4 linked regions of the Homo sapiens genome follow. The protein of the gene in region 1 purifies or fractionates together with the protein of each later gene. This does not show direct contact. Each region holds a gene or a part of one and is shown on either strand. Other genes may lie near its edges.

The links.
Region 2: the proteins of RNF13 (region 1) and AP3S2 purify together in Homo sapiens (affinity purification with mass spectrometry; 3 studies listed by BioGRID and IntAct, with this or other methods). This does not show direct contact.
Region 3: the proteins of RNF13 (region 1) and CLCN7 purify together in Homo sapiens (affinity purification with mass spectrometry; 3 studies listed by BioGRID and IntAct, with this or other methods). This does not show direct contact.
Region 4: the proteins of RNF13 (region 1) and NR2F2 purify together in Homo sapiens (affinity purification with mass spectrometry; 3 studies listed by BioGRID and IntAct, with this or other methods). This does not show direct contact.

What each region holds. Positions count from the first base shown.
Region 1 is NC_000003.12:149,816,190-149,823,215, forward strand, and holds part of RNF13 (E3 ubiquitin-protein ligase RNF13 isoform 1 precursor), read left to right. Parts: intron 1-1,097; exon of another isoform or gene 1,098-6,384; intron 6,385-7,026. UniProt on the Homo sapiens protein: E3 ubiquitin-protein ligase that regulates cell proliferation. Involved in apoptosis regulation. Mediates ER stress-induced activation of JNK signaling pathway and apoptosis by promoting ERN1 activation and splicing of XBP1 mRNA.
Region 2 is NC_000015.10:89,869,972-89,876,997, reverse strand, and holds part of AP3S2 (AP-3 complex subunit sigma-2), read left to right. Parts: exon of another isoform or gene 1-205; intron 206-5,451; coding exon 5,452-5,523; intron 5,524-7,026. Other genes in the region: ARPIN-AP3S2 (uncharacterized protein LOC100526783), read left to right, coding at 5,452-5,523. UniProt on the Homo sapiens protein: Part of the AP-3 complex, an adaptor-related complex which is not clathrin-associated. The complex is associated with the Golgi region as well as more peripheral structures.
Region 3 is NC_000016.10:1,444,413-1,451,032, reverse strand, and holds the end of CLCN7 (H(+)/Cl(-) exchange transporter 7), read left to right. Parts: intron 1-366; coding exon 367-536; intron 537-1,705; coding exon 1,706-1,757; intron 1,758-1,939; coding exon 1,940-2,067; intron 2,068-2,266; coding exon 2,267-2,352; intron 2,353-2,548; coding exon 2,549-2,678; intron 2,679-3,318; coding exon 3,319-3,378; intron 3,379-3,464; coding exon 3,465-3,641; intron 3,642-3,946; coding exon 3,947-4,027; intron 4,028-4,315; coding exon 4,316-4,402; 3' UTR 4,403-6,098; downstream 6,099-6,620. UniProt on the Homo sapiens protein: Slowly voltage-gated channel mediating the exchange of chloride ions against protons. Functions as antiporter and contributes to the acidification of the lysosome lumen and may be involved in maintaining lysosomal pH.
Region 4 is NC_000015.10:96,333,693-96,340,718, forward strand, and holds the end of NR2F2 (COUP transcription factor 2), read left to right. Parts: intron 1-72; exon of another isoform or gene 73-165; intron 166-383; coding exon 384-911; intron 912-3,655; coding exon 3,656-3,930; 3' UTR 3,931-6,566; downstream 6,567-7,026. UniProt on the Homo sapiens protein: Ligand-activated transcription factor. Activated by high concentrations of 9-cis-retinoic acid and all-trans-retinoic acid, but not by dexamethasone, cortisol or progesterone (in vitro). Regulation of the apolipoprotein A-I gene transcription.

The sequences.
Region 1 (7,026 bases):
ATGCCTGTCTTATCCCCATTTTCTAAGTGGGAAGTGGGGGAATTAAGGCATCACAGATACATAACTTCTGAGTTCACACAAGTAGCTGGTGGAGTAGCTGGAATTTGATCACAGGTATTCTGACTACAGAACGTCTGTCTCTTTTGTGTCTTATTTCATTAAAAAATATGGAATGCTGTGGGGCTATTGTGGATTCGTACTTGCTGGTGACCTTGGGGAAGCTCCTCCTCAATTTCCTTAACTCCTTCCTTACTTGTTTTTGTGGGGATTCAGATAATTTGTGAAGCAATCAGATGGCGTATATGTTTAGTAAATTATATGCCTTAGCCTTTTTTTTTTTTTCATTGAGGATGAGGTCATTTGAAAGATTGTTAGCAGTTGAAGGAGGGTGGAAAAAAAAAAGTTCCACATAAGGACACTGCCCAAGCAAAGGTATAGAGATAGGAAAAGCAGAATACATTTGGTAAGGATATATGTTTAAGGACCAGACTGGTAAAGATAGATGGATACAGATTATGGAGATTCTTAAATGTCAGACTAAAGATTTTATATATGATTTTTAGTTAAGAAGAAACTCTCTTTATGGATAATAATTTGTGAACAGGTCCAATGGAAGAGTGGAAGCCTAGAAGTAGGAATACCATGCAATTTAATTATAGTAGTTGAGGCAAGAAGTGATGATCGTAGTGAAGGTATAGATTTGAAAGATGTTGACATTATAATGACATTGACACTGGGAACTGACCAGAGTATAGGCCTAGGACAAATTTTTGGGAGGATAGTGATGTTATTAACAGAAATAAGGATATTATCATGAAGAACAGGTTTTGGTGGAAGGAGATTTAGGAGGAGAGAGGATGATAGGGAGTTTACTTTTGGAGCTGAGGAGTTGTTCAGACGTTTGGAAATGTAGAATGAAAACTGGAAGTTCTGTGTATTCTATGAAAAGGGAAGAGAACAAATGCTTACATTGTAAGGAAATGACCTAAAAGTAACCACTCCTCTGTGGGTCAGAGTTTCACAAGAGGGATGTGACTCCTTAAATTACTCACAAGTACAGATTTCTCAATGAAGATGCACCCATTATTTTTCCCTTTAGTGTATTTTGATTCGTGTCCTGGGAGATCAGGAGGTAAGGTAGTGGGGAGGAAAAACTTTTAGACCTAGCAAGGCTCCCATTTATTCAAAAAATAGCTAGTAAATTGGAGGCTAGGGATTCTCACCGTAAGAATTTTGAGAGTCTGATTTTTGTGTGGTACCAGGCATTTATAAACATATGTTGAATGCTGAATTGTTGAACATTTGAACATCTCCAGATTTGTTATTTTTATTATCCTGTCTTTGTTACCTTGAATTGGTTAATAGCAAAACCTTTAGAATCAGAGACTCTGTGTGCTTGTTATGGGGGGCAACAATGAAAGTCAGGGTGCAGCTAATGAGATTGTATTTTACTTATAGCCAGGATTGTGGAAGAAGACACTCAAAGGATAAGAGGCTTACCATTTTTCCCATTCTGTAAAACCATGTTGATGACAATACCAATTCTGAGAGTTGTTTTGAAATACTGAGTTAATATATGAAAAGGGTCTGGTACATGATAGATAGTAATTGAGATGTTTTTGTTACCAGTATTATTATCTTCACAAGTGGGGGGCAAACACAGAGATCCCAGAACCTATTATAAGAAAAAAAGGAAAACATCTGGAGACCCTTTGTACTTGAAAAAGGGCTCAGGACTAAGTCATAGAAGGACTGTAGGTTTCCTTTCTTGGAAGGTTTTCTAGGGTTTGGTACAATTGGGTAGAGCATGATGTTGAATTAAGTAGTAAAATATATCCATCTCAACTATTTTCAGTTTCCTGTCAAGTTCTCAGTAAACCAACAGAAAAATGTTGTTGAGCATGAGAAGAAGGTTTACTTTTCTTGTCATACCATTTTTGGAAACATTACTTGGATCCTACTACTTAGGGGTTTTTCTGTAGCATTTATTCACTCAAATATTTGTTGAGTACCTTCTTTGTCAGGCACTGTTCTAAAGAGAAAAATCCTTGCCTGCATGGAGCTTATCTGCTAATGGGAGAAATAAGGTGCATTTTCATAATAGACGGTAATTAGATTTTTCTCGTACTATGTATTTGTACCTATTTAAGCAGATGGTAATAATGAATACTATACCAGATTGTAACTAATTTTGCAGAGCATTTGAAGGAAGGGACCATGTCTTTCTTATTCGCATTTGTCTCTCCCTTTTCCCCTTCCTCCCAGTGGAATGGCTTAGATGTGTTTAATGCTCAACAAACGTAGGTACTCATCAAATGTTTATTACAGGGAGAAGGTGTTAAGGCAGAGGCTACATCTTAAAGATTAAAGGAGTCAGTTAAATGTGGCATGTATTAAGGACCCATATACCCCCTAGATTGAGGGTGAGAAGAAGAGAATCCGGCTGGGCACTGTGGCTCATGTCTGTAATCCCAGCACTTTGGGAGGCTGAGGTGGGCAGATCACTTGAGACCAGAGTTCGAGGCCAGCCTGGGCAACATGGTAAAACCCCATTTGTACTAAAATACAGAAATTAGCCAGATGTGGTGGCGTGCTCATGTAATCCCAGTTACTTGAGAGGCTGAGGCAGGAGAATTGCTTGTACCTGGGAGGCGGAGGTTGCAGTGAGCCAAGACCGCGGCACTGTACTCCAGCCTGGGTGACAGAGCGTGACTCTGTCTCAAAAAAATAAAATAAGATAAAAATAAAAAGAGAATCCCCTGGCTTATCTATGAGGTTGGAATAGGAATAAAGTTATATTGTAGCTGAAAGCATCAACATTATGGGAGTCTGGGTGTCACCCAACATTCCCACTAATTAGCTGGGTGATTTTGCATAAATATCTTAACCTCTCAGTTCATTTCCTCACCTGTAAATGAAGTAGTTGGAATTGTCCAGTTAAAATCTGTTTTTACGACTTCTTGTAAAATATCTCTTGCACTAATGTTTCACTTCACTAACGTAGATAATATAGAGCCAAGCATGAGCTTCCATTGAATAAGCATCAAGCTAAATATATACTCTTAGTTAATAAACTAATGTTTAAGAAAAGATGTCTACAAAATTTGTTGATGCTATTTACCGGTAAGATTACATTGTAATTTTTTAAAATAGAGCAAAATATTACCTAATATATAGTTTCCCCCATTGCCATTATGTAAAGGAAAAATAAGCCATAGTATTTTAGACCTTAATAATGGATCATAATACTCACTTTCATACTTTAATTTATACAACAGTCACTTGCCTCTGATATTGTGCTAGATGCTAGGTATTGTATACAGAATTAGAAAATGTATAGCTCCTAACTTTAAGGAGCTTAAGGAATAATGGGAGTGACAGACCATTTAGTTGTGTTGCATTTTGGTGGCATAGAGAAGCATATAATGAGAGTCTGGGAGAAGAGAAAGTGCTCATGGTTACAGAGAAAAAGACTGGAGGAATGGCAAGGGACTAAGCTAAATATACAGAGACGAGCCAGTTTATGAAGAACTTTGTGCTAAACCACAGTTTAGTTCTGAGCTGTATTCTGAAAACTGCTTAATCTGTTAAGGAATTTTATGCAGGCAGTAACATAATCAGGCATTTTTATATCTACCTTTATATTCCTTTTAAGAGAAGGTGTTCCCTGAGGAAGGTATTTGTTATTTCTAGTTGTTTCAACGATGTAGATCTTCCTGAGGAAATCAGTCTTTTTAACTTTGAAATAAAGTCTGAGGAACATTGTCAATTTTGTGGTTATAGAGTTAATAATTATTAAATATTAATAATTATGAAATATTCAGACATTAAAACATTTAAATGTTTATTGCCACATTAATGTAAACTGAAAAGAAAACTGAAATTTTGGGATGTTTTGCGCTTTGATGTAAGAGAGCTCTTGGTCAGCTACAAGAATTTGGCTTAGAATCATTTTTAAGGAGTTAGAAATACGTTGACCTTGAATTGATTGAAAGTGAATGTAGTTCAGGCTCAGTTTCTTTCTTTCTTTTTTTTTTGTTTTTTTAAAGAGACCGTCTTTTTCTGTCACCTGGTATGGTCTCAAACTCCTGGCCCCAAGCAATCCTCCCTCCTCAGCTTCCCAAAGTGCTGGGATTACAGGCGTGAGTCACCACTCCCTGCCCGGGCTCTGTTTCTAATGATAGAAATATCCAGGTAAACTTTATAGAGGGAATGAATTTCCACCGGGAAATAATCCTAGTGAGGAGCTGGTGATAAATGAATATTTCTGAATGAAGTCATGAGGGAGAAACATCTACTTTATTTAGATGTGAAACACCTCATTAAATGTTGAAGAATACTTTATTTGCATACTTACTATGTTTGTCATTTACTCTTTTGACCCTCAAAGAGGAAGAGCTGCTTATAATTTCCACATTTATCCAACATGGATTATAAATGTTAATTGCTTTTTTTGGAAAAAAAATTGAGGTAAAAATTCACGTAATTAACCATTTTAAAGCAATAGTTCAGTGGCATTTAGTACCTTTGCAGTGTTGTGCAACCATCACTTCTGTCTAGTTTCAAAACATTTTTATCACTTTGAAGTAAAATCTCATACCTATTAAGCAGTCATTCCCTGATGCCCCTAGCTCATGGCAACCACATCTGTTTTCTGTTTTTATGGATTTACTTATTCTGGATATTTTATATAAATTGAATTTTCAATATTTGAGTTTTTATCCCTGGCTTCTTTCACTTAGCAAAATGTTTTCAAGGTTTACCCACATGTAGCATATATCAGTACTTCTTTCCTTTTCATAGCAGAAGAATATTCCTTTCCATGTCAGAAGAATATTCCTTTCCATGTCTATATATCAGTTTGTTTATCCATTTATCCATCGATGGATATTTGGGTTGTTTCCACCTTTTAGTTATTATGAATATGTTGCTGTGAATATTTGTGTCCAAGGATTTATTTGAGAACCTGTTTTCACTTTTTCGGGTATATACCAAGAATGGAATGCTGGGTCTTATGGTAATTTTGTTTAGCTTTTTGAGGACCTGCCAAACTGCTTTCCACAGTAGCTAAACCATTTTACATTCCCACTGGCAATGTGTGAGGGTTCCAATTTCCCTACATCCTTGCCTACACTTATTTTCTGTTTTTAAGAAATTATAATTGCCATCCTTATGGGTATGAAGTGGTATCTCACTGTGGTTTTGATTTGCGTTTCCCAGATTACTAATGATTTTAAGCATCTTTTCATGTGCTTGTTGGCCATGTGTGTATCTGCTTTAGAGAAATGTCTATTCAAGTTCTTTGCCCTTTTAAAAAACTACATTGTTGGTGTTTTTGTATTGAGTTGTGTTTTTATATACTCCAGATACTAGACTGTTCATTATCAAATATATAATGTGCAAATGTTTTCTTCCATTATGTGGATTTTTTTTTTCAATTTTTTGATAATGTCCTTTGATAGATAAATGTTTTGAATTTTGATGAAGTCCATTTTATTTATTTGACCCATGCTTTTGGTGTCATATCAAGAATCCATTTCCAAATCCCAGGCCATGAAGATTAACCCTATGTTTTCTTCCAAGAGTTTTATAATTTTACTCCTTATATTTAGGTCACTGATTCATTTTGTGTTAATTGTTGTATATGGTATAAATTCCAACTTCATTGTCTTGCATGTGAATAGTTGTCCCGGCACCACTTGTTGAAGACACTGTTCTTTTGCCATTGAATGGTCTTTGGCATCTTTAAAATCAATTGGCTATAGATGTATCAGTTTATTTTTGGATGCTCAATTCTACTCCTTTGGTCTATATATCTATCACTATGCCAGTGCCATGTTGTTTTGATTACTGTAGCTTTGTGGTAAGGTTTTGAAATTGGGAAATGTGAGTTCTCCAGCTTTGTTCTTCTTTTTAAAAATTGTTTGGCCTGTTTAGGGCCCCTTGCAATTCCATATGAATTTGAGAATCAGCTTTTCCATTTCTGCATAAAAGGCCATAGAAATTTTGATAGGTAATATATTGAATCTGTAGATTGCTTTGGGTAGTATTGCCATCTTAATAATGTTAAGTCTTTGAGTACCTGGATGTGTGTTTGATATCCTTCAGCATTGTTTTTGTGTTTTATAGTTTTCGGTGTACAAGTCTCTCACCTCCTTTGTTATATTTATTCCTGGGTATTGTATTCATTTGGATACTATTATACATGGAAGTTTTTCTTAATTTAATTTTTGGATAGTTCATTGCTGGTATGTAGAAACACAATGGATTTTGTGTGTAACATTTATTGCCTTTAACAGTCATTTACTTTCTTTTTTCCATGTGCAAGCTGAATCACGTGGGTAAATAAGAAAGTGGAAAGTGGAACACTAAAGAACTTGATCTGTAAGATGTCTGATTTCCCTGAATGTGAAAACTATGAAATATGTTTTTAGCATAGTGTTGAACTATTATCTTACTATACTTGGGCTATTCCATTTCTGGTATCACGTTACATATATTTGGTCATTATTAAAGAAGGTAGATCATTTCATTTTCTTTAGGTTTGGAGAGAAGTGTCAATACGTAATTCATTTTCAAAGTTACAATTATTTTGCAACTTAATTTTGATGTTACACAGAAAGCCTCAGGGATAAACCATATTTATCGCAGAGTCTGGTACAGAGATCCATGAATAATAAAGATAAAATTAGAACAGAAGCTAATTTGAATATGTAAATTACCATTAATATACATTAGTTTTTCTGTTTTTTCTTGAAGTTTCCAAATAGCCTTAAAATTTCATTATGAATAGAAATGTGAACAATTTCAACCTCATAAGTAATTAAAGAAATGCAAATTTATGCAATACTTGGATGATTTGGGAAGGGCAGTATTTCATGACACAGACTTTTAATTGAATCCTAGCTTCACTATTTAAGAGGTAAGTATTACTGGGCAAGTAACTGAACACTTAAAACACTTAAAAATAAGAGGAAATATTTATAAAGTGCTTGCTGTGTGTTAGGCACTGTTTTAAGCACTTTA
Region 2 (7,026 bases), on another chromosome or scaffold:
TTCAGCAAATTTCACTGGATTTCCAGCTGCTGTGTCATAATCCCTAGGTACAGCTGTTCTGTCTCTGCCAAAGCTGTTGCTTGCAGGGCTCCCATTTGAGCTGCCATAGCTATCTGAGTTACTGGCATTCCTGATGCCAACAGGGCAGCAACATTGAGAACAAAATCTCTAGTAACTGGAGCTATTTCTTGTTTTTGTTTTTCAATGATTTCTTTTTCTTTTAAAAAATTTTTTCCCAACACCCATCCCAACTATTTCTTTTTCTTGCTGTTCTTGTAATTTCTTTGCCTAGTCCATCCTCCCAGCTAAAGCTTCTTATGCATCCTTTGCTGTGCCTCTGCCTCTGAAGAGAGATGAACTGGAAATCTGGCTTAAACTTCTGCTAAATCTTAGTTTCTCAATGCTCTTCTTTCTCTCTTGTCTTCTGCTTCCTGTACTACTTCTGCTTCTTTCCTATGCATGTCATATTTATTTATTTACTTATTTTTCACACGCAACACAGATGTAGTTTTTATCTTGAACAGGAGCAAGATCTGATCCATGGTTTTCTTTCTTTCTTTTTTTTTTCTTTCCTTTTTGGAGACGGCGTCTCACTCTGTTGGCCAGGCTGGAGTGCAGTGGTGTGACCTCAGCTCACTGAAACCTCCACCTCCTGGGTTCAAGTGATTCTCCTGCCTCAGCCTCCCAAGTAGCTGGGACCTCAGACATGCATCACCACGCCTGGCTAATTTTTGCATTTTTAGTAGAGACAGGGTTTTGCCATGTTGGCCAGGTTGGTCTCAAACTCCTGAATCTCAGGTGATCTGCCTGACTTGGCCTCCCAAAGTGCTGGGATTACAGGTGTGAAGCACCATGTCCAGCCCATGGTTTTCTTTTCCTGCTTCTAGATCATGATCGTTCTTCTCTCTGCTTCTGGATTGAGACTACTTCTTTTCCCTCTACTACGATGATGCCTTTCACGAGACCTGTATCTTGAGTGACTTCTGCTTCTTGATGGCTTTCTTTGTGTTTGTGTCTGTCCTCATCATTTTCAGATGAATGTATTTATTTATTGAGACAGCATGTCACTCTGTTGCCCAGGCTGGAGTGCAGTGGCACAATCACAGCTCACTGTAACCTCTGTCTCCCCGGCTCAAGCTTCTCACCACAGCCTCCCGAGTAGCTGGAATCACAGGCACACACCACCACGCCTGGCTAACTTTTGTGTTTTTTATAGAGACAGGGCTTTGCCATGTTGCTCAAGCTGGTCTCAAACTTGTGAGCCCAAGCAATTTGCCCACCTTGGCCTTCCGAAGTACTGAGACTACAGACGTGAGTCACTGCGCCCAGCCCATTTTCAGATGAATTTAGTCCCTCTCTTCCTTTATCAGAATAATGTTCTTTGTCATTATGCTCCTCAGAAGTGTATTTCTTAGAGGATTTGTTGTAGGATTCCTGTCTTCTTGCCTCATCATGAAATAGGCTTATTATTTTCCTACCTGAGTCTGCAATGTCTTCAGTTCAGCCTCTTTGCCCATCAGCATGCGCTTTGTGTTTTCGTCCTTCGTTTTCTTTCTTGTTTTCTTTCTCTTGACCTTGATTGTGATCTTGAATAATATTTTGAGTAAGAAAAACAGATGCATCTGACAGTTCTTTTTCCACCCACTATCTGGGGATGTCTTTTTCTGGGGCTAGTCCATCTTGTCCTGGATAACTACCCTATCTTGAGAACCCAGTCTTAGTTTCATGAAACATCTTTAATGAAAACAGCCTTTTGGGATGGTGCTGCTGCAAACTGTGGTCTGGCTCTCCTCGCATGTGCTCTGGCTGCCGCAGAACAGAGCTCAGGCCGCTAGGGGGCACCTCCACGTGCCGCTTTTAGCAGTACCAGCCACCTCAAAGCTTTGCCACAGACTGAATAGCTCCTTCCGGGGGCCTGGATGGCACCCAGGGGATCTGCCGTTGCTTTTTTAATTTATTTTTTTACATTTAGCTCATTAATATCTGTTAGATATTTTTATGTCTGCATTGAAATATGTAACTTTATTTTTCCCCCAAAGGATAACTGTTCCAACATTATCAGTTAGCTTGTCTTTTCCCCACCAACTTAAAATACGACTCTTATTTTTAAAATTGCATTTTATAAACATGTATGTTTCAGTAATTTATATTCTGCCCCACTGATCTATATTCCCATCTTAGAATTATACTTTTATTTTATTTTTAAAATTTATTTAGAGACAAGGTCTTGGTATGTCACTCAGGCTGGAATGCAGTGGTGCAATGATAATTCACTGCAACCTTGAATTCCTGGGCTCAAGCAATCCTCCCACCTCAGCCTTCCAAGTAGCTGGGACTACAGGTGTGTGCCACTATGCCTGGCTAATTTTTTTATTTTTATTTTTTTGTGGAGACGATGTTTTGCTATGTTGCCCAGGCTGGTCTCAAACTCCTGGGCTCGAGGGATCTTCCTGTCTTGGCTGCCCAAAGTGTTGGGATTATAGGCATGAGCCACCTCACCCAGCCTTAGTATTATACTATTTTAGTTAACAAAGCTTTACAATGAATTTTGATACCTAGAAAGACTGCACCCAGGTGAAATAAACAGCCTTGTTTCTCACACAAAGCCTGTTTGGTGGTCTCTTCACATGGACACGTGAGACAGATTTCGCTAGGGAAGCAAATAACCATGGAGGTGGGCAAGAAATATCCATGATTGTAGAGCTTTCAATCAGCCTTTTATTCTTGTAACAAATGAAAAACAAAGGATTATCAGACATCTGCGGAAAACCTCTAACATAGAAGAAGGAGATAAAATGAACAAACAATAAAAAGCAACTTAAAAATGGACACCATATAAAGAAAGGAAAACAGTTTAAAAAAAAAAAAAACCCAAAACCCTATTCTTAAGCTACAGAGAAAGCCTGGCCAACATGGTGAAACCCTATCTCTACTAAAAATACGAAGTATTTTAGCCAGGCATGGTGGCACATACCTGTAGTCCCAGCTGCTCAGGAGGCTGAGGCAGGAGAATCACCTGCACCCGGGAGGCTGAGGCTGCAGTGTTCTGAGATCACACCACAGCACTCCAGCCTGGGTGACAGAGTGAGACCTTGTCTCAAAAAAAAAAAAAAAAAAAAAAGCCACAGAGAAATAAGACATTTATTTTAAATAATAATAAGACCCATTTATTAATTAGAAATAAAATAAGACCCATTTATGTCTTATTGCTAAATGGGTGCTAAACAAAAACACTCACAGCCTTGTTGCTCACACAAAATGAACAAAATGGTCTCTTAGAAATAAAAAATGAGAGGAAATGGAAACAAACAAAAACCCACTTCAACTGAAGTATTAGAAAATCAAGTTAATCAATTGTCTCAGAATGGGCAGAGATGGAAAATGGGAGAGAAAAGATGAGAAAATAAGACAGAGGCCGGGCACAGTGGCTCACGTCTGTAACCCCAGCACTTTGGTAGGCCAAGACAGGGGGATCACTTAAGGTCAGGAATTGGATATCAGCCTGGCCAACATGGTGAAACCTCGTCTCTACTAAAAATACAAAAATTAGCCAGGCGTGGTGGTGCATGCCTGTAATCCCAGCTACTCAGGAGGCTGAGGCAGGAGAATTGCTTGAACCCAGGAGGCAGAGGCTGCAGTGAGCCAAGATCGTGGCACTGCACTTCAGCGTGGACAACAGAGCGAGAGTCTGTCTCAAAAAAAAAAAAAAAAGAAGACAGACAGAGGTCCAATACTTGAATATAAGCAGCTCCAAAAAGATTGATTAGGAATGTGGAAAGGAGGGAATTCTCAACAAAATAATTCGATAAAATTTCCCAGAACTGAAGGACTTGAACTGCAGGATTATAAGGGCTTACCAAGTACCCAGCATAGTGATTGAGAAATAGACCCATTTAACTATGTGTCCTTATAGTGAAATATTCTGGCACTGTTAAAAATGTAAAGATTTATGAATGGCACTAATATGAAATTATTGTATGTGGTTTTTGGCATACATGTATATATCTGTTAGATATGTTATCTGGGAGTAGAATTCCTAGATCATAGAGCATGCATACATAATGTCATAGTTTTCCAAAATGGTTGGTATCTGGCAAAATACAGTGCACTGGTTACCAGTCTCAAGAAAGGAATCTAAATGCTCTTGCCCATTGCATCTTGGTATCAGAGTCGGCAAGGAAAAAGTGCAAACACTGGATAAAGCTTTACTTACATAGAGAAGAGACAGAGCAGGATCAGCTCCAATAGTGTGCGTTGGTTCCTCATGGCAAGTGGGTCTGTCTCCCCAGCAGCCGCTGCAGGGTGGTTTGCCTATGAGCACCCATCTTGTGCTACAGTGGAACGGTGTGCCTGGTCTCTGTCACTTGCTGGCCTCAAGTAAGACCCATTTTCATGCAGTGCCGAACAATTCATGACACTGCTGACAATGAGATTGTTTAAATGAGGTCATTGTCTGAGAGAAATTAAACAGTTATAGATAGATACCTAGGTTGTAGTTACATGGTGTGTTCATTCTGAAAATTCATTAAACTGTGCCCTTGTCATTTGTACACTTTTCTGTTATGTTTTATTAAAAGTTAAAAGGTTCTATAGAGAAGTAAGCTCAGGGCTTTTAAAAAAAAATTTTAAGTTGTAAACACGTCAATTAAATTTATTCATAGGAAGGTATTTTGTAGGCTAAATAACTGACCAAAAAAATTAAAAAGGGAAGATGTTTTGAAGTTAATTTTGGCTGAAATTAAAACACAGCTATGTTAACCCTGTAATAATGAAAAATTTTTTGTACATGTATTCATTGAGGACATAGTATTGTAAGTAGTTGGTTTTTTTAATTTGTTATTCTTTTATGTAATTTTTTTTCTTTTTTCTTTTTTTTTTTTTGAGAGACTCTCACTCTGTCACTCAGGCTGGAGTGCAGTGGTGCGATCTCTGCTTATGGCAACCTCCACCTCAAATGATTCTCATTCAAGCTATTCTCGTGCCTCAGCCTCCCAAGTAGCTGGGACTATAACAGGCTCGTGTCGCCACACCCAGATAATTTTTGTATTTTTAGTAGAGATGGGTTTTCGTCTTGTTAGCAAGGCTGGTCGTGAGCTCTTGGCCTCAAGTGATCCTCCTGCCTTGGGCTCTCAAAGTGCTGAGATTGTAAGTATGAGCCACCATGCCCTACCATAAATTAGCATCTTATAAAGGGGGAAAGAGCCACATGTGTCTGCTGGTTGTGTTGCTATGCTGAAAACAAGGTTTTCCTGTCCTAGATTATTCCCTCTAAATCGAGATAAGTAGGGTGATCAGCTAATGCTGGAGACAAAAGGTAGGTGTTTTAATTTTTGAGATTTATCATAAAGTAAATAGTATTGTGACAGCCCCTTTTACTTTCAGATGTGACATTGATAAAGCTGTGAATGTGTTCCTATTTCTCTTCTTTATCTATTTCTCCTTGTTTTCTAGGTTTTTGTGGAAACTCTGGATAAGTGTTTCGAAAATGTGTGTGAATTGGATTTGATCTTCCATATGGATAAGGTATATTCTCTTGCAGTTCTCTTCCAAACTAGGGTTACTAGAAAACCAAGAGCCTTGGGCATCTGTAGCCACCTCTACATCTTCATATTGTTTCTTGTTTTTTTTTACTCTTAAGATAGTCCTAGAACATGTTTTATTTAATAGATTTAATAGTTTGGGTTTTGTTTTGTTTTTGCTAAGATCTACTAACAGTTTTAACGTGCATAAGATTATTACTAGGCCTATATCGTGGTTCATCTGTTCACAGACTGATTTCTTGATATAGGAGAATGATGTCACTGGCTACTTGGCCAAAGGTGAGATAAATAGTTTTATGCTGATTATAAAATTAGTTTCCTAGTCATAGGCCAGTGACAATGAAACTTTGGAATAATCATGACGCAGGGGCTTTGACTTAGATAGTAAAATTTATATCTTTCCTAAAGAGTAATATAGTGACTAAGAGATCTGTAATGTAATTCAAGGTCAGGTGATATTCTATAGGAAGGTAGACTATCAGAGGCAGAATTAAAATGGCCCCAAGTAGGTGTTCTCAGATTTGTTTTGCTAGGATAACTGTGACATGGCCTATGTCCTCATATGCCAAATTAAACTTGGGCAATAGCCAGCAAGGGAATAGGAATTGCCATGTTTATTTTATTCAACTTACCACATGCTGTCCCCTGTGCAGTTTACTGGTGCGTCTTTGGTTTGCTTGGTCCTGGTTTTTCTTCAACTGATTGTTGTCATTATGATCCCTGGCCCTTGGAGAGAGATGATTTTTTAGGAGACTGCTGCTCATTGCTAAGCCATGATCCTTTATTAACCTTTTCATCATGATGAAGTAGGAGTTTTTAGATCCATCGTTGCTAGCATTGCTGTCTAAAGGACTTTCTTGTTGTTTTTCAATAGGGTCTTCAGTCTTAGTTGACTCTGTTGAGGTTGGCAGATCCCCACTTTCCAGGCTAATGTAGTGAATGCATTCTTGAGTTTGGATGACATTAGAATGGAGTAAAGTTTTGTCTCTCACCATCTGACATGGCTCTGTGACTCTATCAGCATCCTAGTGCAGGAACATCATGGAACCCTTTTCCTTCTTTAGATACTTAACTTTGGACTCCCTGACAACCTCACGGGGCTTCCAGTATTTACTGATGCTTTTGAGTCACCCTCCCTTTCATATGAAAGGGTTGTATACTTTTTGGAAACTTCAGCGATCTCTTAGCACCCTTTCTTTGCAAGCACTTAGAGTTGTTTTGTACTTTTCATATGTTAAAGATTTGCTATTTTGCAACTTCTGTCAAGGAGAGCCATAGCTCAAATCTAGTTCCCTTTTGTACTAGAGGAACTAGAGTCCCTTTCAAGTATTAAAGAGACTTGAAAATATAGGGGGAATGGAGAGGTGCCTTCTGTAGGCCTTATTGTTATGATTTTAAAATAATATTGTTAAATACAGGCCGGGCGTCGTGGCTCACACCTGTAATCCCAGCACTTTGGGAGGCTGAGGTGGGCAGATCACTTCAG
Region 3 (6,620 bases), on another chromosome or scaffold:
CAGGCTGTGGGGGGCACCCTCTTCCCGGAGCCAGGCTGCGAGCTGCACCACGGTGCACACCCATGGAGTGTAGACCTGGCGCTGCTAGACCCAGCTGGGCCGCCCCGCTGGACGCGGCTCCTGCTTCTGCTGGCATCAGGGCCCCGCAGAGCCTCTTCCCCTGTGGCCTCCCCATGGGATCCTTTTAGCCTTTCTGCTTCCCAGGGAGGCTGAGAACAGGGAGCCTTCTGGGGACCGCTGGGCTCGGGAGCTCAGGTTGCTGGGCTCCTGGAAGGTGACTGTGAGGCCCGAGACTGGGCAGCGGGGCAGGGCAGTCCTGCGGAGGCGGGAGTCGTGGAGGCCCCGTCAGCCCCTCTTCTCTCCTAGGCTCCTACAACCCCCTGACCCTCGGCCTGTTCACGCTGGTCTACTTCTTCCTGGCCTGCTGGACCTACGGGCTCACGGTGTCTGCCGGGGTCTTCATCCCGTCCCTGCTCATCGGGGCTGCCTGGGGCCGGCTCTTTGGGATCTCCCTGTCCTACCTCACGGGGGCGGCGGTGAGTGGGGCCGGAGGGGAGGCTGTGGGGCCCTGCAGCTGAGCCAGGTCTTGCGGCATCGCGGGCCGGAGCAGAAGTCCCAGGGCAGGACAAAAGTGTCGCACCTCACGTGGTTCACGGGCCGTGGGCGTTGTCCTCGCGTGGTTCACGGGCCGTGGGCGTTGTCCTGCTGTGGTGGCAGCGTGTACTGTGGCAGCGCAGCCCATGTGTGGAGTCTGGACCAGGCGAAGGTAGGGGGCGGAGGCTCGTGTCCTTATTCTTGAGAATGTGATGAAAAGCAGAGGTGATTGTGGGCTGCTGCAGAGCTGTTTCTAGACTCCATGGGGTGGATGTCCGGCCAGGGCTGCTCTCTGTGAGGCCGGGGGCCAGAGCGGCATACACTGCCCTCCAGACCTCAGCCCCCGCAGGCCTTCCTTCTCTGCCTGCCTCTGCTGGGACTGGGTTCTCTTATGTGTCTTCTGTTTCTCATTTCAGTCGCTTAAATAAGACTGAAAACCTGTAAGAGGCCCTGGCAGGAAGCCCCCGGCCATGCTTCTCATCCCCGGCAGGAAGCGCCCACTCCTGCTCCCCAGGCCCGTGTGCTCTGCCCATCTCCCTCCGCACAAGGGTTTGGTTTGGTTTTTAAAATTGAAACATGATTCAAATACCGTAAAACTCATCGTTTTAAAGAGGGCAGTTCAGCGGCGTTTCTCACGTTCACGAGGCAGTGCGGCCGTCACTACCACTTCTAGAATGTTCCGTCATCCCAGAATGGAAACCCTGTGCCCACCGACCCTCGTGCCCCGCTTTCTGCAGCCTCCATGCCTGGGTTCTGTGGCCCAGCCTGATGTTCCCGGGGCTCTCTGTGTCGTGTGTGCCGGGGTTTCACTCCTCATGCTGGACGGTGCTCCCTAGTTGGCCTGGGCTGCTGCGTGGTGACTGTGCCCTCTGCATCCTCCATGCCTGCCACTCCCCTGTTGCTCGGGTGCTGAGCGCCTGGTTCAGGCCAAGGATGCAGCCTCCGCAGCAGGGTGTACTGTGCTAGGTTGTTCTGTGTGTATGTACGCGGCCACGAGGTTTGTTCCTGGCTGTGGGGCTGCTGGGCCTGGGCAGGGCCTCCTCCGTCTGTGTATCTTGGTGGGTTTGGGCCTGCCACCACACTGACACCTCCTCCGTGTCACCTCCCACAGATCTGGGCGGACCCCGGCAAATACGCCCTGATGGGAGCTGCTGCCCAGCTGGGTATGTCCCAGCTCTTGCCCGATGGGTGGGGAGCTCCACGGGGTCTGGAGGGGGCCATGGCTGTCCTTGCGGGGCTAGGGTCTGGGAGCAGGTGGATGGGATGGGTGCTGCAGAGAAGGCAGTGGCCACGTGACCCTGAGCCAGGAGGGTGGACGTGCTGGGGTTCATGATGGCTCCCGCAGGCGGGATTGTGCGGATGACACTGAGCCTGACCGTCATCATGATGGAGGCCACCAGCAACGTGACCTACGGCTTCCCCATCATGCTGGTGCTCATGACCGCCAAGATCGTGGGCGACGTCTTCATTGAGGTGCGCCAGGGCCTCGAAGCCTCACCCTGAGAGCGTGGGTGCTGCCATAGGGGAGGGGCCCCTGTGAGCCTCCAAACAGCCGGTCCCGGGGGGTAGGCTCAGGGTTTCTGGGGGCGGCCTCTGGGCTCCCAGGGGTAGGCTCGGGGCTCCAGGGGTGGGTGTGGACTCCTCAAGCCCTGTGTTCCCGCCCCGCCCGCAGGGCCTGTACGACATGCACATTCAGCTGCAGAGTGTGCCCTTCCTGCACTGGGAGGCCCCGGTCACCTCACACTCACTCACTGCCAGGTACAGCGCCCAGGACACCTGTGGGTGGGGAGGGTGTCCAGCGGCCTCTTGTTGCACAGGGGCAGGGTGCACGGCTTGCGGGCTCCAGGCAGCCCCGCGTTTCCTGTCCAGCGGCTTCACACCTCACCAGCCCGCAGAGGTAACTGTGGGAGTTGGTGGCGTGTGACGGGCATGTGTGGCCGGGCTCCTCCGGCAGGGAGGTGATGAGCACACCAGTGACCTGCCTGAGGCGGCGTGAGAAGGTCGGCGTCATTGTGGACGTGCTGAGCGACACGGCGTCCAATCACAACGGCTTCCCCGTGGTGGAGCATGCCGATGACACCCAGGTACCGGGCACCCCATAGACAGGGTCCTGCCTATGTGACCTCTGTCGAGTCCATTGGTGGGAAGCACACGGCAAGGTTTGCAGGATGGGGAAGCTGCACGTTTGGGTGCACTGGCAGTTCCAGGAGTGCCGGAAGCTGAGTGTGCAGCCATGGAGGGCTGTGTGGACGCTGAGGCTGGTGGGGGGGGCTGCGGCCTGGCAGGGTCTTGGGGTTGGCACCCAGGCTGGGCTGAGAGCCGTGGCACTGGGGGCCGTGACTTTGTCAGGAGGCCCTGACAGGACACACAGCTCGGCCACTGCTGTGTGTCTTTTAGACGTGGACACTGGGTGTTTGGAGGTTGGTTTTTATTGGGACCCAGTGGGGCTGCATCTGCCCTGCAGCAAAGCCACCATCCCTGGGCCCTTGGCTCTCTGCTGTGCGCGGTCAGGCCCCGCTACCCTGTCGCCGATCCTTGGGTCCCGTGGCATTGTGCGTGTGGGATGCCATGGCGAGGCTGGTGTGAGCAGGTAGCCACCGACACGGGGCCCATGCCCAGATGGGAAATCTGGCCGGAACAGGGTCAGAGCGGGGCCCGACACAGCATTCCAGCGCAGCCTCCCACCCTCGGGCCCGTGGCCCTGACCGCGGGCCTGTCTTGCAGCCTGCCCGGCTCCAGGGCCTGATCCTGCGCTCCCAGCTCATCGTTCTCCTAAAGCACAAGGTGCGTGCCAGGCTCCGGGCCATTGGGCGGGTGGGGGCCCCGGGGGTGCTGCCTGGGTGCCTGACACAGGGCTCTGCCGCCCGCAGGTGTTTGTGGAGCGGTCCAACCTGGGCCTGGTACAGCGGCGCCTGAGGCTGAAGGACTTCCGAGACGCCTACCCGCGCTTCCCACCCATCCAGTCCATCCACGTGTCCCAGGACGAGCGGGAGTGCACCATGGACCTCTCCGAGTTCATGAACCCCTCCCCCTACACGGTGCCCCAGGCATGTGCAGGGCATGGGCATGGGCGTGGGGCCTGGGACTGAACAGCAGGGGGTGGGGTCCAGAGCCTCGGGGAGGGGCAGCCGGGGGGGGCCACAGCGGAGAGGACTCGGTGACTCTGTCTCCTGTGAAGGGCCTGGCAGGCTTTAGAGCTGAAGTCAAGGGGCTGAGGGGGCTGGCCAGACGGGCGTGGGGGCTCAGGACGTGCCTGGACGCCGTGGTGGGGGGTGCAGGGAGCCAGCTTGGGTGAGGGTCCCGCCTGCCTCTGCTGTGTGGGCGGGCACTGACAGCTGTGCCCCTGCTGCAGGAGGCGTCGCTCCCACGGGTGTTCAAGCTGTTCCGGGCCCTGGGCCTGCGGCACCTGGTGGTGGTGGACAACCGCAATCAGGTGAGCGGGGGCGGTGGGGGTGCAGGCATGCCGTGCAGGGCTCCCCTCTGCCTCCTGCCCGTGCTTACTCTCAGCTCCCGGCAGGGGACACGGAAGCACAGGACCCAGCACCGAGTCGGCCCATGCCCCATGGCTGCACCCCTCCCCAGCCCCGTGCTCAGCTCGGGGGCTGTGCTGAAGCCCCCAGGGCCCCCTGCCTGTGCTGCCCCAGCCACACACAAGGCAGGGAGCTCCACAGGCAGGCGGGAGCCGACCCGTGTGTCACTGTGGCCTGGACTTGTCCTGCAGGTTGTCGGGTTGGTGACCAGGAAGGACCTCGCCAGGTACCGCCTGGGAAAGAGAGGCTTGGAGGAGCTCTCGCTGGCCCAGACGTGAGGCCCAGCCCTGCCCATAATGGGCACTGGCGCTGGCACCCCGGCCCTTCTGCATTTCCTCCCGGAGTCACTGGTTTCTCGGCCCAAACCATGCTCCCCAGCAGTGGCAATGGCGAGCACCCTGCAGCTGGGCGGGCAGGCGGCAGGCGCGGAACTGACCCTCTCGCGGGACTGACCCTGTTGTGGGCAGTGGTCTCCCCCCTTGGCGCCTCCTTGCGCAGGCCCAGCCTCCACTCTCCTCGTCTAGGTTTCTTTACCTCCAGGGATCAGCTGTGTGTGTGTGACCTCCCTACCGGGCTATCGGCCTCTTGGGAGCCAGCGGCAGGGCCGGCACCTGCGTGCCTGTGCCCGTGTGCGTGAGACAGAGCCCTTGCCCCTGCTGCTGCCCCGAGGGCTGCCCTGCCCTGGAAGGGCCCCTCTGCCTCCACACCAGTGGAGTCTTCGAGACTTGGGAGCTGCTTGGCCTCATTTTCAGCCATGAGCAGACGGCCTGTGGTCCCTGGGCCTGAGGCACGGACTCGTAGCACCAGGGTTTGGAGGCTGCGACCGCCCCGGAGAGCAGCTTCACACTGGCGCCACAGAGGAGCCCCACGTGCACTCCCCGGCCTGCATCCGGCTTGGGTACACAGGCCCAGAGGACTGGGGTGACTCACGGGCCCTGTGCTGTGATGTTGAGAGCTGAGAAAAACCTCCAAGGCCCTGAGCCCCATGCCCAGCCCTGCCTTGGTCCCCCAACCCCCAGAGCTTGGAGTCTGGGCCCCACACCCAGCCCTGCCTTGGTCCCTGAGCCTCAGAGCGTGGAATTGCTGCCCTGTGGACACTGGCTGGGAAGGCAGGTCTTCCCCTAGCACATGGGGACCCCGGCCTCGAGGGTGACCTCCCTACCCCGCCCCTGCCAGCCACCAAGCGCAGGTGCAGCGGGGGCCAGACTCCTGCCGGCCTCAGAGGACACCTGGCCCAGCACAGGCAGCTAGAAGGGCCGGTGGGCACCGGGGCCGGGAAGCCCCCACCTCACCACCTGAGGGCCCCTGGGAGGCTCCTCTGGCCTGGCTGGGCTGGGTCTGGGGCCGCCACAGGCCCCTCACGGGGCGGCAGAGGCAACTTCAGTGTCCCTGTTAGAGCAACACGGGTCCCTCCGTGGGGGGCTGGGTGCGGCCCCCTGCCGTGTATTTCCTCCCCAGGGAGTGGGGCCTCCCCGGGAGCTGACGCCACCACCCTGCTTAGCCCTCACAGGGCCCCAAGGTGTCCGAGTGTGTTGGGTCTGAACGCGAAATAAAGAAATCCTCTCAGCCCGCCTTTGCCAGCGTCGTCCCTCCCACCCCACCCAGACCACGTCCAACAGCCTGGGACTTTCGGGACCCTGGGGTCGGGGCACCGTGTGGAGTGAGAAAGGCGTGAAAGACAGCGGCTGCGGCCACCCAGGGCACCAGCCACATCCTCTTCCTCGTCCCCGCCCCTCAGCCTCCCTCCTCTGGCTCCTGGCTGGTGGGTCTGGGGGCAAGGCAGAGGCGCTCCAGGTGGAGGGGGGCGGGCCGGGGTGCCCACGCTGGGGTGACGCAAGAAGAAAACTCCCGGGCCTCAGAGTCGGCGCCGGAAACCTAGGTCTGGGTTTCCCTCGTGGTGGTTGTGTACTGAGGACCTGGAAGTGATCATATTTTGGATATATTCGGTTAAATAAAATCAGCGGTTAGGATTCACATCGCTGCTTCTTGCCTTTTAATGGGGCTGCTGAGCAAGATGGGTTCCCGTGGAGCCCGGCTGTGCCCCTCACCCCGATGGCGCTGCCCAGGCCTCGGGCTCCGCTCGGACGTGGGCCTGGCTGTGTCCGGGGTGTCCTGGGGCTCTCGGCCTCCCTGCTCCCAGCGTCCCTCCCGGCGTGCCCAGGCCTCGTCAGGGCCTCCTTCCCCTCCCTCGGCAGCTGAAGAAGTCCCCTTTGCCAGAGGACACGTGTCTGCGCCCTCTCGGGAGTGGGGCCCCTCAGATCCATCCAGAAGCAGGCAGTTGGGGGGCCCTGCGGGAGTGGGAGAGCTGAGGGCTAGAGTTCCATTGGCAGTTGGGCTGTGAAGCCGTGAGGTTCTGGGGAGAGAAGGAAGGTTCTGGAACGGCCCCGCTGCCCCACACCTGCCTCCCTGGGGACCCTGAGAAGGCAGCCAGACGAGGGCAGCAGCTCGTCCCTCAAGGCCCAGAGCTCTCACGGGACTTCCTCTGGCTCCTGACCC
Region 4 (7,026 bases), on another chromosome or scaffold:
CCCCTCCCGCTCCCTCTCCTCCAATCAATAAGAAATATCAGCTGTTTAGCAGTAAAGAAGAAAGATGCCCTCAGAATGCTACATCCCGCCCACAGCGCCGGGGACCCCGAGGCAAGGTGGCCAATTCTGGGTCCTCGGCGGACCAGCCCCGAGCGGGCCTCGGAGGCAAGTGTGCCCCTCTGGCCCTCAGAGCTCGCCTGGGTGGTGGTTTGAAAGGAATGGTGCCAAGAGCCTGGCGACTCCAGCTCTGTGGCAGGCCTGCCTGGTTCTTGCGCTGCTCAGGGCCTGGGTCAGGTGGGGGTCGGGCTGGGGCAGACCCCGCCGGGGAACCTGGGGACTGAGGCTGGTCATTAACTGTGGAGTGTCTCCTTTCCTCCCCGCAGCGGTGCAGAGGGGCAGGATGCCGCCGACCCAGCCGACCCACGGGCAGTTCGCGCTGACCAACGGGGATCCCCTCAACTGCCACTCGTACCTGTCCGGATATATTTCCCTGCTGTTGCGCGCGGAGCCCTATCCCACGTCGCGCTTCGGCAGCCAATGCATGCAGCCCAACAACATCATGGGTATCGAGAACATTTGCGAACTGGCCGCGAGGATGCTCTTCAGCGCCGTCGAGTGGGCCCGGAACATCCCCTTCTTCCCCGACCTGCAGATCACGGACCAGGTGGCCCTGCTTCGCCTCACCTGGAGCGAGCTGTTTGTGTTGAATGCGGCGCAGTGCTCCATGCCCCTCCACGTCGCCCCGCTCCTGGCCGCCGCCGGCCTGCATGCTTCGCCCATGTCCGCCGACCGGGTGGTCGCCTTTATGGACCACATACGGATCTTCCAAGAGCAAGTGGAGAAGCTCAAGGCGCTGCACGTTGACTCAGCCGAGTACAGCTGCCTCAAGGCCATAGTCCTGTTCACCTCAGGTAGGAAGGAGCCCTGTCTTCTCGTGCCCACGGGCTCCTAGCCCAGAGCTGGGGCCCAGAGAACTTGGGAGTCCCCAGGGCAAACCCAGTCTGCTCCTTGAAAGGCCAAACTGTTGAGTGCAACTTAAAGTGGGAACTTTTTATAGCTGCTGGGCACTACCAGGCCTGTCCTGGGGAGAGGAGAGGAAGGCTGGATTGCAGGAAGGATGCTTCAGATAGATTCCCCACATGGGCCATAGGGCAGCCTCTGCTGCCTGTTTCCCCCACCTGCAGTATCCAGATTGGGATGCCCTCTCCTGCTCCCTTTCCTGAGCCCAGGCCCCCCGGGCCTGCTGGGCCCCAGGGAATCTCCTCAAGCCCTCGGTTTTCTCTAGCGCCCTGGCTGGGCCTCCAGGAGATGCCCTGGGCAGTGGAGCAGCCCTGACATTGTCTCTGCAGGGAAAAGTTTGCCTGCTAACTCAATAGGAGTTGGAGCTCCAGGCAAATCCAACCTGAGGGCAGCAATTTTCAAAATCATATTCTTACTGGAATAATGCAGACTGCCAGGAGAGGCGAAAAGATGTGTCAGGATGGGGCAACAGGAGGAAAGGGACCGTCATAACTCTTCAGAATGTCTGCAGGAGGTTGAAGACTCTGGCCTCTTGCTTCCCCTGCCCAAGCAAACACTTAAGGCAATTTTCAAACAACCCAAAGTGTATGCCAACTTGGGCTGGATATGGATGTTGCTAGAGATATAAAACCATCATTGACTGCATTATGCAATCTAATTAGTTTGCATGTAGTTTAACCTGTGTGAGTAATAGAGCTGATACTAATTAACTTGAGGCAAAATGATTTTTGAAGGTGTCTGGCTTTCCATTTTGGGCCACACCTGAGCTTTTTGGCTGCCTCCAGGCTGAGTTCAGCATAGCCCAGGTGGATGGAAATCACCAACCCCCTTTCACATTCTTGTACTAAGTTGTCAGCTGATCCTTTTGTCATGGCTGAGAGGGGAAAGGGGTTCCCGATTAAGAATAACAAACATCTGGACGTTAGCAGGGCTTGGAACCTAGTCACCCACTACAATTTTTTAAGCTTGTTAACAGGAAACGAGGAGAGATGTGTAGTTTATGTGGCAAACATAAAGGAGGTCCACAATCTCTTCCTTATTGTTCGAAAGAAGTCTGGGGAACTAAGTCATTAGCTGAACAGCTTGCAGCTTCTTAGTCCTCAAACTGCTGTCTTGTACATTGCTGCTTTCCACATAAAACCTCCCAGCACAGCCACCCCAAATTCTGCCTTTGGAAGTCCTTAGGTAATCAATTAAAGGCCAGTGTCTGGGCAGGGAAGCTGTTTGCAGAGGTTTGGATAGGGATTATTTTTCTCGAGTGCCCCTCATACCTAGAACGTTTGCCTGCTGCAGATATACAGACAAGATATCTCCCTACCTCATAGCCACCTTCACCCCTGTCCCACAACCCAACACCCAGCCCACCTTCTTGGACGATGGAGGTAGTCGTTAATTTCTTGGTATCATTGCTAGCTCTTAGCCTTACCCTTGGTCTTTCAAGGAAAAAAAAATGCCTGATACTGTCGTTAACAGTTTAATTTATGACTATTTGCAAAATGTGGAGGCCTGTGTGGAGAATGCAAATCGCCTCACAAAGAGATAAAGGTTCCTGTTATCTGATTCAGAGGGAGACACACAGTTCCGAGGATGCCGAGGGAAGGAGTCCTGTGCAAACAGATCTTTTAGTTCCTGTCCACAGACACCTCTACATTCTGTAGACATGCAGAGTCCTAGATATACATATGAGGAGGTTGCATGTGTGTTCTGGTTCTTGGGGTGGAGGTGGTGGTGGAGATTTTCGAATATCTGTTTTAATGACTCACAATATGCATATGTTAACCCCAGTCTTGTATGGGGAGCCCTGAAAGGTCAGGTCACAACCTGAACCGCCTTTACCAAGAAGCTTCTCATTTCAAAGGCACTTACTGTATTTTCACGTATCAAAAAAGAAAAGTGTTTTCCTGAAGATAACAGGGAGGGGGGATGCTTCTCGGAGGGACCTGGGTTTTAAAAAATAAAGGGGGGTAGGAGAAAAAGGGAGAGAGAAGAAAAAGGGGGAAAAGAAACAGCTCAAATGAACAGAGAGATCACGGTTTGCATGGCTGCCCTTCAATAGGCTAAACTGACAAGATCAGTTTTAAAGGGCCACTTAAATCAGTTTCAAAGACTGGAGAAAAATGAGTCGCCCTCTTTGGGGGGAATCTGAGGCTGGATCGTGGACGCCATTACTCGGGACTGGGCCAGGTTGTCCACCCCCAACCCCCAACCCCTATATAATTATAAGCCAAACTATTATTTACAGAGGAGGAGGGGAGAGAGTGCTGGTAGTTTTGGTTTCTTCTGTTTACTGACTTGGGCCAGACAGACCCAATGCACTTTTGCTTGGGCCTCTCAATGACCCAGGCTAAGGACTCGGGCAGTGAAAGCCTGTAGCACACTGAGCTATGTTTTATTTTAAAGCAAACACTTCCTCAGGACCATCTCTTGCTCTTTCTTCCCCCACCCCGCCTCCCCCCCTTAAGTTTTCAGTACATAGACATTTGCTCCAACTCCGGTTGGGGCAGTTTGACAGAGCTCTGTGCACACACCTCATGTGACCCAATTCAAACCTCTTAATCTGATGACTGAATTCTTCTTCTTCTTCTTCTTCTTCTTTTTCTTCTTCTTCTTCTTCTGTTTTTAAACTTTCTTCCAGATGCCTGTGGTCTCTCTGATGTAGCCCATGTGGAAAGCTTGCAGGAAAAGTCTCAGTGTGCTTTGGAAGAATACGTTAGGAGCCAGTACCCCAACCAGCCGACGAGATTCGGAAAGCTTTTGCTTCGCCTCCCTTCCCTCCGCACCGTCTCCTCCTCAGTCATAGAGCAATTGTTTTTCGTCCGTTTGGTAGGTAAAACCCCCATCGAAACCCTCATCCGGGATATGTTACTGTCCGGCAGCAGTTTTAACTGGCCGTATATGGCAATTCAATAAATAAATAAAATAAGAAGGGGGAGTGAAACAGAGAAAGAAAAGGCAAAAGACTGGTTTGTTTGCTTAATTTCCTTCTGTTAAGAAAGGATATAAAAGGATGTTACAAGTTTGCTAAAAGAAGAGAGGGGAAGAATTTAATGGACTGTGAATTTCAAAAAAAAAAAAAAAGACTGTCAAATGAACTTTTACAGAATGCATTAAAAAAAAAAAAAAACTCCTGTGTCGGTCAGAACAACTTGCTACTTATCATTTTTGTATAAAAAGGAAATTAGTCTTTTTCTTTTTTTGGTAAATTTTTGAAAAATATTGCTAAAAGTGCATTTAAGGAGATTGGGAGACAATTAGCAGAATGGAGAAAGTAAGTCTTTTTTTTTTCCAAATTATTAATTGTCCTGTGTCTATGTACCTCTAGCTGTTCTTTTTTGTACTTTTCTGGTTCCAAACCAGTTTATTCTGTGGTTCTATAATAAGTTTTGATATAATCTTGGCTTCTTAAAAACTGTGTATCATTAAAATATATGTTCTGCAAGAATTAAAACTGAGTCCATGAAAATACCATAGGAAGACATAAAACTTTAAAAGGCAACTCAAAGATGATGGAAACGCACTTACAAGTGGTGACCAAAATTTTTAGGTGAAGTCGAGCACTCTAATTAGAGAACTGGAGGAACCACATATAACACTTAACTTCCCCTACCCTGCCCCTCCCCAAAAGAAACCATGACAAACCTAGCTTTTAAAAAATATTTTAAGAAAGAGAATGAACTGTGGAATTTATTGGCAGCCAAGGAATGTGTCCAAGACACATGCTGAGGTTTTGAATAAAAAGTGAACTTTTGTAATTTGAATTGGGTCCCGCTTAGTTCTTGAATTGTTATGAAAATCCTATATCTGTTTGTATATTTGCAAACCCTTTGTATTATAATTGTTGATATTTTCCCTTTTTAAAAAATACCATTGAAATCAGCATGACAAAAATAACACTGTTGGCACTTATAGGTAACGTGATTGATTCAGTATCTTAGAGTTTACAGTTTGTGTTTTAAAAAAACTGAAGGTTTTTTTTTTAAGTGCAACATTTCTGTATACTGTAAAAGTTATAATAACTGAACTGTTTGGTCGAGTCTTTGTGTGTTATATTCCAAGGAAAATTGAAAGTATTCAGAAATTAAAATATTATTTGATATCTGAAACCTGGCTGTCCCCACTCACTGTCTTTACATCTAGAAGAGCCCCTGTGAGCTCTCGCTTAGCTGGCCGGGCGGGGGGTGGTGGGGGGGGGCATTTGTTTACTCCCCTCAGTCAGTTTGTTCAAAGGTGGACTACTGTATTTGCCTGTTTAATTTGGGTGTGTGTGTGTTGGGGGGGGAGCTGAAGTTAATGGTTTATCTATGGTTTAGGAAGTGCCATACTGATATAGTAAACCACCCCCATTCACCTAATCCTCCTTTTAATTAAAAATGGATTTTCCAGGAAAAAAAAAAAGGCCCTTATATTTGTCACACTTAAGTGCCTGCTTAGGGAAGGTATTGTGAAAAAGTATTAGAAATCTTGAGATCAGTATCTATTTTATGATCAGAAAAAAATACTCTTTTGTACATTTCTGACAGTTACTCAGAAGATCGTTCAAGCAAGCTAATCACAGCATTGTAACTAGAGGACAGTTGTTTGCAGTGAGTTTTTCCTTAAGTAGGTACGATTTTTTAAAATATTCTGTGATTCTACTCTAGCGTGGTTGTTGAGAGAGTTTCAAATTCAGTGATACAGGTTCTAAGACTGAAAGGTCTACTTTTAATGTATATATGATAACTTGCAGTTGGTTTCCCTCTCCCCTCCCCCCCTTTACCTTCAGTCTGTGAGAGCATGACCACAGGGTCAAGGGAATCTTTTCCATTGGAGTTATGTACATAAAAACACATCGACATTTTGACATTTCAGATTGTGTGGCTACAATCTGTACTGCTCTTGGGATCCTTTGTCCTTAGAAGCCAAATTAAGGAAGAGAAAGCAGGACAGAGAAAAAGAAAGAAGGAAGGAGGGAAACTTTACAGGGTGTGCTGATTTGGAAGTAGTAACTATTTCTTTTGGAGTCTTTTTTTCATTTTTCCTCTTTCTCTTTTCCTGGTTTGGAGGAAGCTCGGTGCTGGGAGCTTGCAATTTTGTTCTTATTCAAGGTTTCCAACCCACCCCCCCACCGCCAGTACTTCATCATGTTGTGGTTTAATTCTAATTGGTGGGGGGGGGGGAGGACTAGTGAGGGAGGTGAAAGAACAGGGATAATTTTGTAAAGTGTATTAAACGTTAATATTCAGATCCAGTCAATACATGCAGACCAGTAAAATCTGATTTGTGCAGAGTTCTCCATCTGACTCTCACTTATTTCTGTAGATATATACATATATAAATACAAGTATGTTCTTACGGCACAGTATTGCTGACCTTTAGTTCGAGGTTTTGTCGGTTGTTGTTGATTTTCTTCCTCTTGCAAGTGCTATCCATGTGAGTGTGTGAAGTTTCTCTAATAAGTAAAACACAGGCCCTTTTCCTTGTTTGTTTTGTGTTAGTTTATTGTAAACAGCCATTTGTTGTAAATTATTATTGGCATTAAATTATAATTTATGATTTTCAAAGCAAAAGACAATCCCTGTTTTATTATGCTTTAAGCATGTGTTCTAGACGTTGGAAATCTCTCTCGCACTCTTAAGTTTAAGCAATGAGCTTGGGGTCTGCGAGGCAGAAAAACAGGACCCAAAATTTTTCAACCGGTTAAAACAAACCCCCTTGTATATGTTTAGAGTGGCCGGAGGAGGATCTGTTTAGAGTCTTGAGTTCGGTTTAAGTTTATTGCATTTAAAGAAAGTTTTTCTTTTCACGCTGAGTTAGAACAAAAGATCTTTGCTGCGACTGAATTGGACAAAAGACGAGGGCTGGGACCCAGCGAGCGCGTTCTGTGTGAAATTGACGAGATCTTTAAAAAAGCTGCTAAACATGGCGACTCTTTCCCTTTAAGTGTCTCTTTTTCCTTGCTGGGTTTTTTTTTTTTTTTTTTTTTCATCTGATCTGAGCTCGCTTTATTTCTTTTCCCAACCCCGCTCC